2 separate regions of the Homo sapiens genome follow, and region 2 is linked to region 1. Evidence: fine-mapped expression QTL. Tissue or cell type: whole blood. Region 1 holds a variant in brackets; the other region holds the start of a gene. All regions are shown on one strand. Distances are from middle to middle.

What was found. PIP is the estimated chance that this variant, and not a neighbour inherited with it, causes the effect.
Region 2: OPRL1 starts here. The variant in region 1 is fine-mapped to the expression of OPRL1 in whole blood (TOPMed, PIP above 0.99).

The regions. Positions count from the first base shown.
Region 1 is chr20:64,133,094-64,141,093 of GRCh38, forward strand. LOC105372727 (a long non-coding RNA gene) reads right to left here. Exons shown (of 3, transcript XR_937008.2): 2 at 7,820-7,897; 3 at 6,789-7,138. Among named protein-coding and RNA genes, the nearest start is that of MYT1, 27 kb to the right of the region's middle. RefSeq lists enhancers at 4,209-4,710, 4,711-5,210, 7,047-7,960. The variant C/T (reference allele first, on the strand shown) is at 4,783.
Region 2 is chr20:64,076,884-64,084,883 of GRCh38, forward strand. OPRL1 (opioid related nociceptin receptor 1) reads left to right here and starts at 3,199. Exons shown (of 5, transcript NM_182647.4): 1 at 3,199-3,469. RGS19 (regulator of G protein signaling 19) reads right to left here and starts at 2,635. Exons shown (of 6, transcript NM_005873.3): 1 at 2,411-2,635; 2 at 1-71. The coding sequence starts at 3. It overlaps LKAAEAR1 (LKAAEAR motif containing 1), which reads right to left and starts at 7,515. Exons shown (of 3, transcript NM_001353425.2): 1 at 6,935-7,515; 2 at 6,700-6,822; 3 at 6,493-6,611. The coding sequence starts at 7,336. The coding sequence ends at 6,552. It overlaps MIR6813 (microRNA 6813), which reads right to left and starts at 127; the gene lies at 72-127. RefSeq lists silencers at 2,537-3,216, 3,610-3,783, 6,608-6,667, 6,848-6,927.

The DNA of each region.
Region 1 (8,000 bases):
GAGACCCCTCACTGTCCACCCTCATGTCCTATGAGACCCCCTCACTGTCCACCCTCATGTCCTATGAGACCCCCTCACTGTCCACTCTCATGTCCTATGAGACCCCTCACTGTCCACCCTCATGTCCTATAGAGACCCCCTCACTGTCCACCCTCATGGCCTGTAGAGACCCCCTCACTGTCAACTCTCATGTCCTATGAGACCCCCTCACTGTCCACCCTCATGTCCTATAGAGACCCCCTCACTGTCCACCCTCATGTCCAAAGAGACCCCCTCACTGTCCACCCTCATGGCCTGTAGAGACCCCCTCACTGTCCACCCTCATGGCCTGTAGAGACCCCCTCACTGTCCACCCTCATGGCCTATAGAGACCCCCTCACTGTCCACCCTCATGTCCAAAGAGACCCCCTCACTGTCCACCCTCATGGCCTGTAGAGACCCCCTCACTGTCCACCCTCATGGCCTGTAGAGACCCCCTCACTGTCCACCCTCATGTCCTATAGAGACCCCCTCACTGTCCACCCTCATGTCCAAAGAGACCCCCTCACTGTCCACCCTCATGGCCTGTAGAGACCCCCTCACTGTCCACCCATATGGCCTGTAGAGACCCCCTCACTGTCCACCCTCATGTCCTATAGAGACCCCCTCACTGTCCACCCTCATGGCCTGTAGAGACCCCCTCACTGTCCACCCTCATGGCCTGTAGAGACCCCCTCACTGTCCACCCTCATGGCCTGTAGAGACCCCCTCACTGTCCACCCTCATGGCCTGTAGAGACCCCCTCACTGTCCACCCATATGGCCTGTAGAGACCCCCTCACTGTCCACCCTCAGGACCCTCTGCATTTGCTCCTTGGGTTCCCGGAACTTGAGCTTGGGTCTTGGTCCACAGCAGCTTTGGGAAGGGCCCTCGGCTGCTTTTTGCTTCAGCAGCTGGGGAGCAGTTAACTTTCAGACCCGGCCCTCCCCCAAGGCAGCTCAGGGAGGGGCTGGACACTCGGTTATTTATGTATTTACTTATTTTTAAATCAAAGCACAGCAAACATGACCATGTGGGGGTGGCCCAGTGGACCCTCACAGTGAGCCCTGGGCCACACAGAACATGGCCCTGGAGCACCCCTATGAGGTTTTAACAGGGTTTTGGGGGACCTTGGTGCTTCCTAAAGTTTCGGGATGAGTCCCCGGGGTCTCCAGACTGCGTCTGCCTCCTCGTGCACCAGAGGGTGGCAGTAACTGTTCATGTTTGCCCCATCCAGGGGTTTTTACCAGGGGTACCTCATCCTTTCTGGGGAGTGGGGAGAGCACCTGAGGGGGTCGGCCTGGAACAGGAGGTTGCAGCCCATTGCCTGAGTCTTAAAGTGTGCCCTTCCCCACAGCACTTCAGGATCACTCTGGGACCATCCTAGGATTAGGAATTTTAAAACGTTTAAAAAAAATTATTTTCCTTTTTTTGGGGGAAATTGGTTATACATCCAGATGATTCAAAAAGTAAAAGTTTAAAAATAAATAATAGTTTAAAAAATGCGCAAAACAAAAAAACTGCATACAGTGAAAAGGAAGCATTTCTTTTTTTAAAAAATTTTATTATTATTATACTTTAAGTTCTAGGGTACATGTGCACAACATGCAGGTTTGTTACATATGTATACATGTGCCGTGTTGGTGTGCTGCACCCATTAACTCATCATTTAGCATTAGGTGTATCTCCTAATGCTATCCCTCCCCTCTCCCCGCACCCCACAAAAGTCCCCGGTGTGTGATGTTCCCCTTGAAAAGGAGGCGTTTCTGCTTCTCCTCTTTCCGGTCCTTGACAGTGATTCCGTGCATCACAAACACACACGCTCCCTCAGTTACACGAATCACAAACACACGCTCCCTCAGTTTTGTGCATCACAAACGCACACGCTCCCTCAGTTTTGTGCGTCACACACACGCTCCCTCAGTTTTGTGCGCCACAAACACGCGCACTCCCTCAGTTATGTGCGTCACAAACACAGACGCTCCCTCAGTTTTGCGCATCACAAACACACACGCTCCCTCAGTTATGGACATCACAAACACACACGCTCCCTCAGTTTTGTGCTTCACAAACACACACGCTCCCTCAGTTATGGACATCACAAACACACACGCTCCCTCAGTTTTGTGCTTCACAAACACACACGCTCCCTCAGTTATGGACATCACAAACACACACGCTCCCTCAGTTTTGTGCTTCACAAACACACACGCTCCCTCAGTTATGGACATCACAAACACACACGCTCCCTCAGTTTTGTGCTTCACAAACACACACGCTCCCTCAGTTATGGACATCACAAACACACACGCTCCCTCAGTTTTGTGCTTCACAAACACACACGCTCCCTCAGTTATGGACATCACAAACACACACGCTCCCTCAGTTTTGTGCGTCACAAACACAGACGCTCCCTCAGTTTTGCGCATCACACACACGCTCCCTCAGTTTTGTGTGTCACAAACACACACGCTCCTTCAGTTTTGTGCTTCACAAACACACACGCTCCCTCAGTTTTGTGCATCACACACACATTCCCTCAGTTTTGTGCGCCACAAACACGCGCGCTCCCTCAGTTTTGTGCATCACAAACGCACATGCTCCCTCAGTTTTGGGCATCACAAACACATTCCCTCAGTTTTGTGCATCACAAACGCACACGCTCCCTCAGTTTTGTGCGTCACAAACACACACGCTACCTCAGTTTTGTGTGTTACAAACACACACGCTCCCTCAGTTTCGTGCATCCCAAACATGCTCCCTCAGTTATGTGCGTCACAAACACGCTCCCTCAGTTTTGTGTGTCACAAACACACACGCTCCCTCAGTTTTGTGCATCACAAACACACACATTCCCTCAGTTTTGTGCGTCACAAACACGCGTGCTCTCTCAGTTATGTGCGTCACAAACACAGACGCTCCCTCAGTTTTGCGCATCACACACACGCTCCCTCAGCTTTGTGCTTCACAAACACACACGCTCCCTCAGTTTTGTGTGTTACAAACACACACGCTCCCTCAGTTTCGTGCATCCCAAAGACGATTCCTCAGTTTTGTGCATCACAAACACATATGCTCCCTCAGTTTTGTGCGTCACAAACGCGCGCTCCCTCAGTTATGTGCGTCACAAACACAGACGCTCCCTCAGTTTTGCGCATCACACACACGCTCCCTCAGTTTTGTGTGTCACAAACACACACGCTCCCTCAGTTTTGCGCATCACAAACACACACGCTCCCTCAGTTGTCAGGGGACTTTGCACTGTGCCTTTGCATGAAACACCATGGCTTGAAGAGGTCCCGCATCGTTAGGGCCCCCTTGCCCATGGTGTGGCGTCCCCTGACCGATTTAGCCGTTATTGAGGGACATCGAGGTTGCTTGGTGTGGCGGCCCCTGACCGATTTAGCCGTTATTGAGAGACAGCCAGGTTGCTTTCAACGTTTTCTTTTTCACAGACAGTGGTGCCAAAGGCGTCCTTGGACATGAGTCGTCTCCCAGTGGGTGAGCACATCTTAGGGCAGATTTCTGAAGGAAGATGTGCCAGGCAGAGGGGGTCTGAAGTTTTAACTTTGAAGGGCGTATTGTCACACTGCCCTCCACAGAGCTTGTACCACGGAGGTGGTGGCAGTGTCTTGCTGCCCATGCCTTCCTAATGTGTGTGTTGTGAAGTCTCTCGTTCTTTCTTTTTAAAAATTTATTATCTTTAATTTTTTAAAATGTAGAGACAGGGCCTCACTATGTTGCTCAGGCTGGTCTCGAACTCTTGGGCTCTAATTTTTGTATTTTTAGTAGAGACAAGGTTTTGCCATATTGGCCAGGGTGGTCTCGAACTCCTGACCTCAAGTGATCCGCCTGGCTCGGCCTCCCAGAATACTGGGATTACAGGCCCTTGACCCATTTTTCTTATTGTGTTGTTGGATTTTGTCTTATTGATTTGTACGGGGCGTTTACATATTAAGGAACTTACACCTACATACTTGCAGATATTTTTTTCATTTTTTTCTTAAAAAATTTTCTTTTGAGAGACAGAGGTCTCACTGTGTTGCCCAGGCTGGTCTCAAACTCCTGAGCTCAAGGGATCCTCCCATCTCAGCCTCTCAAGCAGCTGGGTCCACAGGTATGTGGCACCACCTCCCCTGGTTTGTTATTTGACTTTTGTCTTTGCTTAAGGAGTTTTGCCATAGAGAATTTTCTTTTTATTACATGAGGTAATTAATCTTTTTCATAATATCCCCCTTCCCCCATGCTTTCTTCTAGTACTATTTAAATTAAAAACTTTTAAATCTTTTTAAATCTATCCAGGCTTTATTTTGGTATAAGAGCCAAGGTCGTGATTGATTGGTGTCAGTTAGCATCCATGGAGGAGACAGATGTCACCCTCAACTTGGGAAATTTGAGGAGAGATGAATAAAGGGACTAAGATGTGGTTGGCATGTAGAGAAACCACTAAGGCTAATGCTGGGTGGGACCCCTCAGGCCTCGGAGGACACAGGGAGGCTGCAAGGGAGGTGGTCCTGCAGGAGCAGAGACCTGGGTGTGGGGAGACTCGAGTGCAGGACCCTACAGGGAGGGCTGGGGAAGCAAACACCCACTCCCAGTTGGCTCCCTGCAGGCCAGTCCCACCCAGCAGCCCGGAGTCAGGCAGCCGCAGGTGGCCCTGCAGGTCACAGAGGTGGAAAGTGGGGTGGGCCAGATGCTGGACAGGTGCAGCACAGGACGCTGGGATGAGCTTTGCCAGATGTGGCTCCATTACTGAACCAACAA[C/T]AACCGACTTGGGGGATGGGCACTTCCAGAAGCTCCCCAGGGCACCTGGACTCAGCCCCCAGGGGTGCAGTGTGCGGTTGGGTGTTGGAGGCCTCAGGTCTGGGCCTAGTGGAGGCCAAAGGGTAGGGCCAGTGTGGAATGAGCTGACCACAAGCTGTTCTAGACAAGGCTGTAATCTGCCTTTGTGACCCCAGGGCTGTCCATGGGGAGCTCTATGGACCTCTCAATGTCAGCGTTTTGGGGTAAGGGTGGGGGTCAGGTGATGCTGGGATAGATGGGGCAGGGTCTGTGGGGGTGGGGAGGGCCGGGGAGGCTGTTGTCATTCATTCATCCAGTGCACACGGGTGAAGCCCTGCTCTAGCCACGCCCTGGAACAAGGCCATGAGGAATCAGACACTAGCGGTTACTTTTAACGAGCACCTACTGTATGCAGGTTCCTTGTGTTGACCTTCAGGAGCTCATTTACTACTCACAACAACCCTGCCGTCTAAGTGAGGAGACTGAGTTTCAGAAAGGTTAAGTAACCTGCCCGTGGTCACACCGAGCTGGGATTCGAACGCGGGACTGGCTGACTCCAGGCCTCAAGCTGTGTTCTGCTAAGCTGTGCTGCTGCCTCTGGGAAGTCTCACAGAGATGAAGGCCAGCCTGTCTCCACTTTTGGGGAATTCACCCTCCATTGGGTGGGCAGAGGCCTCATTATCAAATAAGGACAGCGGAGAGATTCGTGCTGAGCCACATGCGCTGTCCTGCACTCACCCATTCTTGCGGCACGGGAACTGAGCACGTATGTTGAGCTCCTGCCAAAAAGTTATGATGCTTCTTTTTTTTTTTTTTCTTTTTGAGACGCATTCTTGCTCTGTTGCCCAGGCTGGAGTGCAGTGGTGCAGTCTCGGCTTACTGCAAACTCTGCCTCCCGGGTTCACGCCATTATCCTGCCTCAGCCTCCCGAGTAGCTGGGACTACAGGCACCTGCCATCATGCCTGGCTAATTTTTTTTTGTATTTTTAGGAGAGACAGTGTTTCACCATGTTAGCCAGGATGGTTTTGATCTCCTGACCTCGTGATCGGCCCGCCTCGGCCTCCCAAAATGCTGGGATTACAGGCATGAGCCACCGTGCCCAGCCAAGTTATGATGCTTCTTGACATAAAATCTTTAAGCATTAAAACAATATTAAATCATAAAATCAGTATAAGAAAGTCTAAAACATTGCAGATTTTCCTGAGGTCAACTTAAACACTTAAAAAAAAAAGCCAAATTCTTAAAACAATTGTTTTTGGTGTCCTGCTTTGATGGTTCCCTAAACACTTGCTCTGACTATTAGAAATTCTGTACCTGGGTAGCTGGGGCCCCCGTGGAGAGGGAGCAGCTCGCCCAGTGAGAGAGGCTTGGCCATTGTCCTGCAGGGACTCTGCTGTTGGGGGAGCGGGCAGGGCATGTGCAGTGTGGGGTGTGGCATTCAGAGGGAGTGGCCTCCACAGCCCTGTGGCTGGGGTAGGGAGCCCAGGGGGGCCATCCATGTTTCTCTTGAGGTACCTGGCAGAAGGCGGGTGGGGGGGGTGCGGGGGGTGGTCCTTGACAGCAGAGCAGAGAGAGATGGTGGTCAGAGGCCCAGGCGGGCTCCGATTAGGCCCAGGCCAGGGTCCGGGATCCATAGGAACCCCTCGACCACCAACAGGGCCTTGAGCACCCTGGCCAGGGCGGAGGTAGTCCAGGACAGAGGACAGTTTTGCCAGTGGTGAGTGGAATTTGGGTTAGGGGTAGGGTTAGGGTTAAGTTCAGGCGCTTGGGAACAGACAGTGACCAGGAAGCCTCCGGCAGCTGTGGGCCCCAGGGCTGACCTGCTGCTCGTCCTGCTGCTCGTCCTGCCCCGTGCTCCACCGTCCTGGTTTGCCCAGGTGAAGGGGTTTCCAGGACTCTCCGTTTTAAAACCAGCACAATCTGGGCCAACTGGGACACACTGGTCACCTTGCTAATGTGTCCCTGTTCCTGAGGGGGAAAGCGGATAGGCAGTTGTCCCCCAGGGCCCAGGGAAAGAAGCCAAGGCAAGGTGCAGACAGATTTCCCTGCCCCAGACTAAGGGAGCTGTGGACAGAGGCCTTTGCTGGGAGGTGCTGGGTCCTTTCCTCCAGGCAGCGCTGGGATTTGGGCCCCGAGACCTCGTGTTTCTCTGACCCAGGGAAGAAGCCTCTGTCCACTCTGGGCCTTGCCCTTCTTTTGTTTTCCTTGGTGGAGGGAGGGAGAGGAGGTCGCCAGCACTGTTTGCCCGAGTGAGGCTCATTTCTCCTTTGTCTGCACAAGGCTGGACTGCCCTGCATTTTCATGGTAAGTTTGTTTCTTCAAGCCGTTGTTAAAATCCTGGAGGCAGAGAAAATGCATTTGCTCCATCACCTTCCCTGAGGTGACAAGTCCTATAAAACCTGTTAAAGCCTTTAATGAAATCCCTGCTCAGAGCTGCTCTGTGAATGAATGTGGAATCAGAATTTAAATTAAAATGTTGCTCTTGTTGTCTGGAGGCTTTGCCTGGGAAGAAATGAAAGGGGCAGCTCACCTTTCTGCCACCGTTCTCAGGCCGGGTGGGCGCCATGACTAGCCACCCTCTGACCCAGGGCTGGGGGCCCACCTGTGACTCACGGGCTGGGTCAAGATGCTAGCTGGATTTCAAGGCAGTGGCTCTCCCCACACCTGAGACTGTCCCTGCTGCAGGCCCCACAGAAAATCCCACTGAGGGGGAAGGTGGGTGTGCCTGTGGACCAGGTAGCCACTTGGGACTGGAGGTTTTATGTACTCAGAAGCAGAGTCAGTCCCTGAGCTCACAGGCTGATAGCAGGGGTGTGGGCAGACAGCCGCCCTGGAAGAGGAAAGAAGAAAGTGAGAGCGACTAAGGGGCTCTGGGGTGTGTGAGTGGGTTGGTGCAAGGTGGAAAGGAGGCAGGGAATGTCTTCCCAAATGAAGGGAGCAGGTGGGAGGCCAAGGCAACGGGCATGAGGCCTGGAGGCCTCGTGGCTTGGCTGGGGGCAGTACCAGCCCCGCTCCTACCTGTTCAGCCTCCCCGCTGCAGCTCTTCCCTCTTTCCTTCACGGAGTCCTGCTCTTTGGACTTAACACACTCAGGAGTCTGTTGTTAAAAAACAAACCAAAGGCTCTCTTAGCCTCGACCCCATCACAGCCAAGTTCTGGAGAGCTCTCTGCTCCATCTCCTCTTGTCTCCCCCTCCTCCT
Region 2 (8,000 bases), 56 kb before region 1:
CATGGGTGGGCGGAGGAGGTTGCCCAGGCTCCGTGGTACCAGCTCTCAGACCCTCACCACAGCCTGGGGGTCTGGGGAGAGGGGCCAAGGTTCTGACTGAGAACCTGAAACCCCAGCCCCTGCCTACCCCTTAGGAGGGGTCCTGAGAGGGTGTCTCCCTAGCGGGGCCTGCTCCTGCCTCTGGACCCAGCTCTGCCTAGGGCTTCTACCCCGACCCCAAGCTTACAGCAGGGCTGGGAGGGGGTCCAGGATCATTGAGGAGGGAGCTGCAGCAGCTTCTGGCCCCTCCTCCCAGGCTGGGCCCCAGATGAGGCCCCCACTGGAGGTTCCGAGACACCCCCATCCGCTCACTCCCTGGGAAGCCGGAAGCCTGGGTTCCTCTTTCTTGGTTTCCGGCTCCCAGCCCCTCCCAAAGGGGCCCCGAGAGTCTGGGGCTACCAACTGGTGCGTGCGGGTGGTGGCCAGACTGGCTTCTAGGGTGTCTGGGGTGGGGAGTGGGCAGAGTGGCTTCCCACCAAGAGTCCAGGTCTGTCTGTGGGTCCCAGAGGTCTCAGCCAGGGGCAGCAGGCTAGACCTGCAGCAGTGAGGATTTAAGTGGGACTCAGGCTGGACTTGCTGAGGGTGTGGGAAGGGGGGCAGGGCCCCGGTGAGGAGGGACATGCCCCCCAAACATGGTTCTTTGGTCCTGCTACCTCCCACCCAAGACTTCCCTCCCTCCTTGCCCACTGCCTCTAGGCTGTGAAACTGCTGTGGAACCAAGGCCCTACCACAGGGTGCGCCAGCCAGGGAAGTGGGGGTGGCAGGGGTGGGGGGCACCCTGCTCCCCAGTCGAAGCCTCGGAGTCCCTGAGGGGGGTGTGGTGTGGTGCATGTCCCTCCCAGCATTTGGTTGCACCGTCTGCAGGGGAGGTGCACCAGGAGCGCCAAAGCTGTGAGTGGCCCTCATGCCACCTAAGATGCCACTTCGAATCCCAAGTCTCCTTGGGCGATGGTACAGGGGGGCCAATCAGTGCCCCGGAGGCAGTTGTGAACACCTGCGCCCACTTCTGCCCAGGGCAGGGAGGGGCCTCCGTGCACATCCGCCACCCTCCTCATGTGCCGCCACCCTCCCTGGCCAGGAAGCTCACAACTTGATTCTACTTTATTTTCTCAATCTTCATCCCCCCGCCACGCCTCCCCTAGCTCGTGGCCTTTGAATGCTTGTTTCTGGCTGGTTGGCTTCTCTTGGCCTCCTGGGACGGTGTGTGAATGGCCCTCAGAAGAGACAGTGCTGGAGTTCTGCACTCTTAGGGCCCCCAATACCCCCGAGGCCTGGGCATGCAGAGGCCACTGCCCTGGCCCAAGTCTGGGGCAGGTGCAGCATCCCCTGGGACCTTGGCCCCTCACCACCGGCCCAGTTTCCTCTGAGACTGGGGGTCCCACGGGCTCCTAGCAAGTAGATGAGGAGACCGAAAGTAGCCCTGCAGCTGGGCTTTCTTTCAGGGGTCAAGTTTCTAGGGAAAGGAAGGGGCGTGGCAACCTGAGGTTTGGTAGCTGTACCCAGACGGGGCTGTCTGTGGCTTCCCCAGGCAGCAGTTCTTCCTCCTCTCTGTCCCCACCCAGGGTCCTCCCCCACACTCTAGCACCCCTGAGACTGTCCCCCTGGGCTACCATCTCCACCCCAGCTCTGAACTGGAGGAGGGGACGTGTTTAGGGGTGCAGGGCCGGGGTGCTAGGGGCTGCATTTGCTGCAGAGCAGGGAGCCAGCCCCTTCTTTCCCAGTTGCAGGCCCTGGACCTGGTCACCTGTCCCTGGACCTGGCTTCCTGTACCCTTCTCAGGTCAACTGGGGCAACCCATGTCCCCAGGCTACCCTCCCCCCGTCTCTCCTGGGGGATACAGAGTCTCAACTAGGGTCCTCCTGCTTGTCAACCTGGCATTGGGGACCCCCTTCCCCAGCCTCCCAGGCTTTGGCCCCCAAGTCTGGGATGGGATAGGCTGGATAGGCGGCACGTCTGCTCTCTGGGGATAGAGGATCCCTTGGGAGTGGCTGCCGCTTTGCTCCACAGAAGGAAAAAGAACGTCCCAGAGCCTGCCCAGTCCAAAAAAAGAATAAGAAAATGTGACAATCCCAGAAAAAAATGTCATAACCTTTGGGAGGGGGGTTGAAGAGGGGCTCCATTCTCAGTCCTTAGCTCCTACCCAGGGCCTTTCCCATCTGCCACCCTCCACATCTGGCTGGTGGGCGAGCCCTGGCCTGGCCCCTCCAGGGAAGGCCAGCTCTCCCCACCTCTGAAATGGTGGTGGTGGCCCACCCACCACGCTCCTCTCTCTGCTGTTAGGGTCCAGTCTGGAGAAGCCTGTGTTCTCCTCCAGGTGCCTCTTTCTTCAGCCTCTGACGCCCCCACCCCTACCTCAAAGCTCCCTACTCACCAGCGACCCAAAGGCGGGGTGGGGGCAGGAGGGGCCAGGTTGGGTCTGGGCCCCACCCTGGCTGCCGAAGGGGCGTGCACTGCAGCAGCAGGGACTCAAGTCAGACGGCAGGAGGGACTCCTGCGGCGCTCTGGAGGGAGGCTAGCGCCAGGAGCCCCCGATCGGCTGGGGCCGGGGGCGCAGCGCCTCCCCTACAGCTCGAAGGGCTGAGTGGCTGCCAGATCCAGCGGGGTGGGGGCGGGGGCGGACAGGGTGTCCCGCCCCGGCCCCTCCTCACCGGGCTGAGAGGGGGAGGGAGACGCGGAAACCTGGGTTCTTCCGGCCCCCACCTTTGAGCAATCACTTCCCCAGGCTTTGAGCTCCAGAAAAAGGGGAACCCGGCTGCGGCGCCCCCTCCCCCACGCGCGGGGGGCGGGCTCCACTTCCACTGCGGCCCAGGGTCCACGTGGACCTGGCGGCGGGAGCCCTTGGGGTTCGAGTCCCGTGCGCCGGCTCCCGAAGCTCCCGCCCAGCACGGTCCCCGGGCCCGGGCCGGGAGGGGCAGGGCCGCTGTCCCCGGCGCTGCGCGCGCGCACTCACCAGCCGCGCTCCCGAGCCACTCGCGCCGCCGCCGGCCCGCGCGCTCCAAGGTCCGGCCCGACAGTCGGGGAGGGGGCGCGGGGGCGCAGTGCGCAGGCGCCTCGGCGGCACTTCCCCAAAGCCAGGGGCCGGGACTTCCTCGCGCCGGCGGTCGCCGGGCCCGCCCCGCCCGCCGCGCCCCGCCCCGCGCTCGGCCGGCTCCGCACCCCACCCGCCCCGCCCGCGCGTCGGCCCCCACAGTCGCCTGGGGGTGGCCCGGAGAGTCGAGGTGCTCATAGTGGAGCCCTGGCTCCCGGGCGGACGGAGCCGCACGGTAGTAGATGGGGGTGTGGCCGTGGCCCCCGACTCTGCTCGGCGGGGCCGTTCCTGCTTTGCCATCCGTGTGGGACTTCCACGACAGTGGAGGCACGAGAGCTGGGCCCCATATGCTGCTTGCCCAGCTTGGGAAAGAGGAGGCTGCTGCAAAGGACCGATCGGCGGGTACGCCAGCCCGGCCCACCCCTCGCCTCCGTGAGCCGCGTCTGTAAAACTGGGTTAAGAGCCGCCTGTCTGTGCTGTGGGGGGTTCCCAAGGAAGGGGGAGATTCCTGTGCTGCGGGGCTGGGGAGAACTGGGGGTGCGGGTTCTTGCATCCGGAGTCATGCCGAATGTCTCCTGTGGGGCCTGGCAGAGTCCCTGCTGACCCGTGTGTCCCAAGATGTCCTAAAGCTTAAGGCCACACTGTCCCCTTTGCCACGAACGCCCTGTCCCTTTGGCCGACTCTTCTCATCCTTTATGACTCGGTACAGACGTGGGTTAGGCTTCTCATCGCAGCATGCTTTGGCCCTGTGTCAGGGTGGCCCTGACCCTGCTCTGGAAGTGTCTGCAGAGCATCTGTGCCCCCCGCCCCTCCCCTGGCCCGGCTGTGTGCAGCTCCTGTCCTCCCCAGCACAAGCACTCCACCCGGATAGTTCCCAGTGTCGGGATCTGTTCATAAAATGCCTTCCAGTTGCACAGGTCAGGTGCACACCTTACACCTTCACAGAACTCTGAGGGGTGCAAAGGCAGCTGGAGATTCTACTTGTATTCCTCATTCAACGGACAAGTATCAGTATCTGGGTGCCCCTGTGGGCCAGGCAGTAGGACCAGAAGCCAGCAACATAGATCAGCCTGGATCTTATGCTGGGGGGCGCAGAGTGAGTTGTGGGGAGCAGGCAGGGAAGGCCTGGGTGAGAGGGGGGAGGGCTGAGGAGGGGAGGGTATTGCGCTGCTGAGCGGGGGCGGGGGCCCGAAGGGGGAGGTCAGAGGTCAGAGGGCCCTGGAGGACAGACAGGCTGCCTCTCGAAGCTGTACCCAGAACCCTGTGACTGCCATGTTGTCAGGCCAGGCAAGGAAAGGCAGGGGCCAGGAAGCCCACAGGGACAAGAGGCAGGCTGCTACTTATTCAGCCCACATAACACTCCTGAGCGGTGGGCACAGGTGAGGTCAGGGAAGCTCAACGAAGATGGGCCAGCACCTGGCCCAGGCCACACACAACCAGGCTGACCCCGCTGAGCCGGCCTGTTGTCTCTGCTGTGGGAAAATGCAGCTGTGGGCAGCTGGCAGGGGGTGAAGGTCAGTGCCCTCCCTGCCCCCTCGGGTCACTCTACAACCCCCCAGTCATTCCCCCGTCTCCTCTGGCCCCTTGGGCCTGCTCTCCACCGCCCTGGCTTCTGCCTCTCGGCACACAGCATCCTGAAGTCCATGGGTGGGGCCAGGTGAGCTGGGCAGTTGATGGCGGAGCTGGGATTTGAACCCAGGACCCTCTGCGCCCTGACAGCCCTCAATATATTGGGCTTTGGACCACATGCCTTCCTTCCCATAGAGCTTTCTACAGGCAGGCGTCCCTCCAGGCCCCATTCCCCAGCCTCCTTTGCACATCCAGCACCCCCTGCGCCTTTTCATGGGGATCAAAGGGCCCGAGTGCCGGCCTGACCCTGGTGCAGTCACTGAGGTCACTGTCTTGCTGGCCTTCTCTGGGTGCTGGGTCTGCTGTGCCTGTCTCTGCCCCTCTTCCCTCTTGCCTGTCTGATGCAGAGTGACCCATCCCCTTTGGAGCACTTGCTGCTGTGGGGTACTGCACCAAGACCCTTATTTTAAAGATAAAGAAATGGAGTCTCAGAGAAATGGTGAAATAATATGTGATTCTCCCAGTAGATGAACTCATTCTAGGCACTCAGTCAATCCCCAAGACACAGAATCCTGGGGTCCAGGCTGCAGGGAGTTTGGCCAGACGACACCAGGGCTGGCTGTCATCACATGTCACAAGCACATCAGGGTGTGAGTGGCTGCCACTCCTGGACAGACTGCCTCCCTTCCCTGTCTGTCTGCCCCTGCTCAAGCCCCTTCTCCCTGGCCTCCTTCCTCTCTACCCTTCCCTTCCTGAAACCCCTCCTGCCATCTCTCTGTCCCCTCCTTGTCAGCTGACTTCTGAGCTCTGTATACAGTCTGGGCTTGGGTCAAGGCCAAGGGCAGCAACAGCCCAGAAAGAGTAAAGTGCTCGGTGCACGGGGAGAAGGGCTGGCTGAGGGGCGAGTGCGCAGGGCTCCACCCCCTGGCCGGGGCTGGGGAGAAACACTGGCTGCCATGGAGCAGGATCCCTTCTGGACCCCAGTTCTGACCTCTGCCCCTCCTTCCAGTCAGCTGGAGCCCCCTAGCAGGAGGAGCGGTTTGTCTGAGTTCCTGCGGTCCCGCTTCTGTGCAGCCTGCTGGGCAGGGGGCTGGGAGGGAGGAAAAGGAAGCGGGGGCCTAGGGAAGCCCCAGCGTCTGCAAAGAGCTCACGTCGGGGAGAAAAGTAAGGTCTGCCCAGAAACCTCGGGGCTTTTCAGAGTCCAGGGATTTTGTAGGTCGTGGGCCTGTTTGTCAGAATGGGACAGGGGTGGCTTCCTTTTGTACTGCATGCGTGAGTGTGTGTGGGGTGTGTGTGTGTGGGGGGGTGGGTGTGGGGGTGTGGCATGGGGCATTAAAGGGGTCACAGGAGGCTATTCAGGATGGAAAGGAAGGCCAGAGGGTGGGATTTTTGTCTGGGGGCCGCAGGGGTTCCCCTTGCCCAGTCTCTTGGTCCTCTTGGGCACAGCTGCTGCTTCTTCAAAGGCCAGCTTAGGTCACTTCCGCTGCCCACAGCACTGCCCTCTCCCTGGCCCCCTGGTGGGATGACTCGCACTCGAGACCACTGCAGCCTGAGGCTACCCTTACATCTGGGGGTGACTTCTGCTGAAACAGGCTCTTTCTCCGTCCTCCCCAAGACTGGGGGCCTCCCATAGACCCACAGAACGCCAGGTTGCCAGTGGGGGGCAGATCGGGATTAGGGGTAGGCGTGTCCCTGACCTGTTACTTTCACACCCACCCACTTGCGTCTCCCCACTTTTTTGGGAGAGGCCCCACTCTCTGTACCCTGATGTCTGTGAGGTGCATGGGAGAGGCAGCGTCCATACTCCCCGCTTCCCTCGGGGTCCTGGGGAGTGGCAGCAAAAAGACCAGCGAGCCTTCGGAGAATTATAACTTTATGTGGGAGGCTGGGGCGCGTCGCACACTCTCAGTCGCCGTCACCGCGGGAAGATGGTGCCATCCACGTTCTCCTCCAGGATGGTCTCCACGCGCCTCCGCTGCCGGGGAGAGAGGCTGGGGTCCGGCGTGTGCGGAGGCGGGCAGGGCCCCTCCCCTTTCCCCGCCCCTACCGGGGCTTGTCTGCACCTCTTGGCGGTCCAGGGGGTCCGGGATCCGCGCGGGCTTCAGCTGCGGCGGCAGGAACAGCTCCAGCCGGATGGCGGCGCGCGCGGACTTCTGCCGCTGGATGAGCAGCGCGATCTCCTCGGCCTGCGGGGCCCGGGTAGCTGAGCGCGCGCCGAGCCCCGCCCCGCCCCGCCCCGGCCGGCTCCGCTCAACGCTCCCGGTGCGCCCCCTCTGCCCTCCGACCCCCTCGCCTCACCCGCATGCGGGTGTAGCGCAGCCGCAGGGCGCGGACTCGCCCGCGGGCCTCCGCTGCCTTGAGGACGCCGAGGAGCCGGTTCTGGCGCTCGGCGGGCAGCTCGAGCGACTGCGTCCACGGGCGCGGGTCGGGCATGCGGTACCCCGGTTCCACCGACCCGCACGGGAAGGTGGAGGCCGCCGCGCCCACGTCCTCCAGCAGGTCGCCGAAGAGCAGATGGCGGTGGCGCTGCGCAGGGAGCATGGCCGCCAGTCCCTGCGGCGTCAGGGCCCAGCCCGGCTTGGGGGGCTCTGTCGCGGGCGCCCCCTTGGCACGCTCCTCACCCTGCGCCGTGCCTGGCGCGCTCTTCCCGCTTCGCTCCCGCGGGCCCTTGCGCCCGCCCTCCTTCGCTGGCGGCGGCATCCTCCCGCCCTGCGGAGGGAGGAGGGCGTCCCGTCGGTGCCGGGGCTGGCACCGGGCCCTGCCCGCCCCTCGGCAGGGCCCCAACGTGCGCCCCAGCTCCCGCCCGCTGGGCTCTCCGCAGTCGGTTTTGAGTTCCGCACCCCCAGCCTCTGAGCTTTGCCCAGGCGCTCTCCCTCTCCCAAGCGCACGTCCCCAGCAGCTCTGCCATCGGCTGATCCTGCTCAGTCCTGCAGTCAACTAGGACTTTCTGATCAACTCAGTTGTAGGAAATATCTTTCCTACCCGATGGACTGTTCTGTTTGAATTGAGAAAATGCTGAGACCCCACTGGGTTGATCTCAGGCCCTGCCACATGGAGAGCTCTAGGTGACGCCTGGGGGACCTTCGTTGTGCCCCTATGTCTGCGGTCCCCGACAGTCAGGGTCTCCCACCAGACAGCTCGCTCTTGCCCTTCGAGGCCTAGATGGTTGTGGGGAGCAGAGCCTAGAGGGCAGGTGACAGAGGAGGGAGGGTCCAAAAGCCCAGCTGGCTCCTCCCTTCCCGGCCCCAGCCTACAGCTGCCACCTTGTCCAGCCAGGGCTGGGCTCGCTGTGCCAGAGGCAGAGCCACGGCCAGCCCCAGCGGCGGCTAACGCCCCCGCCCCTCCTTAGCTCCTGCAGCCGAGG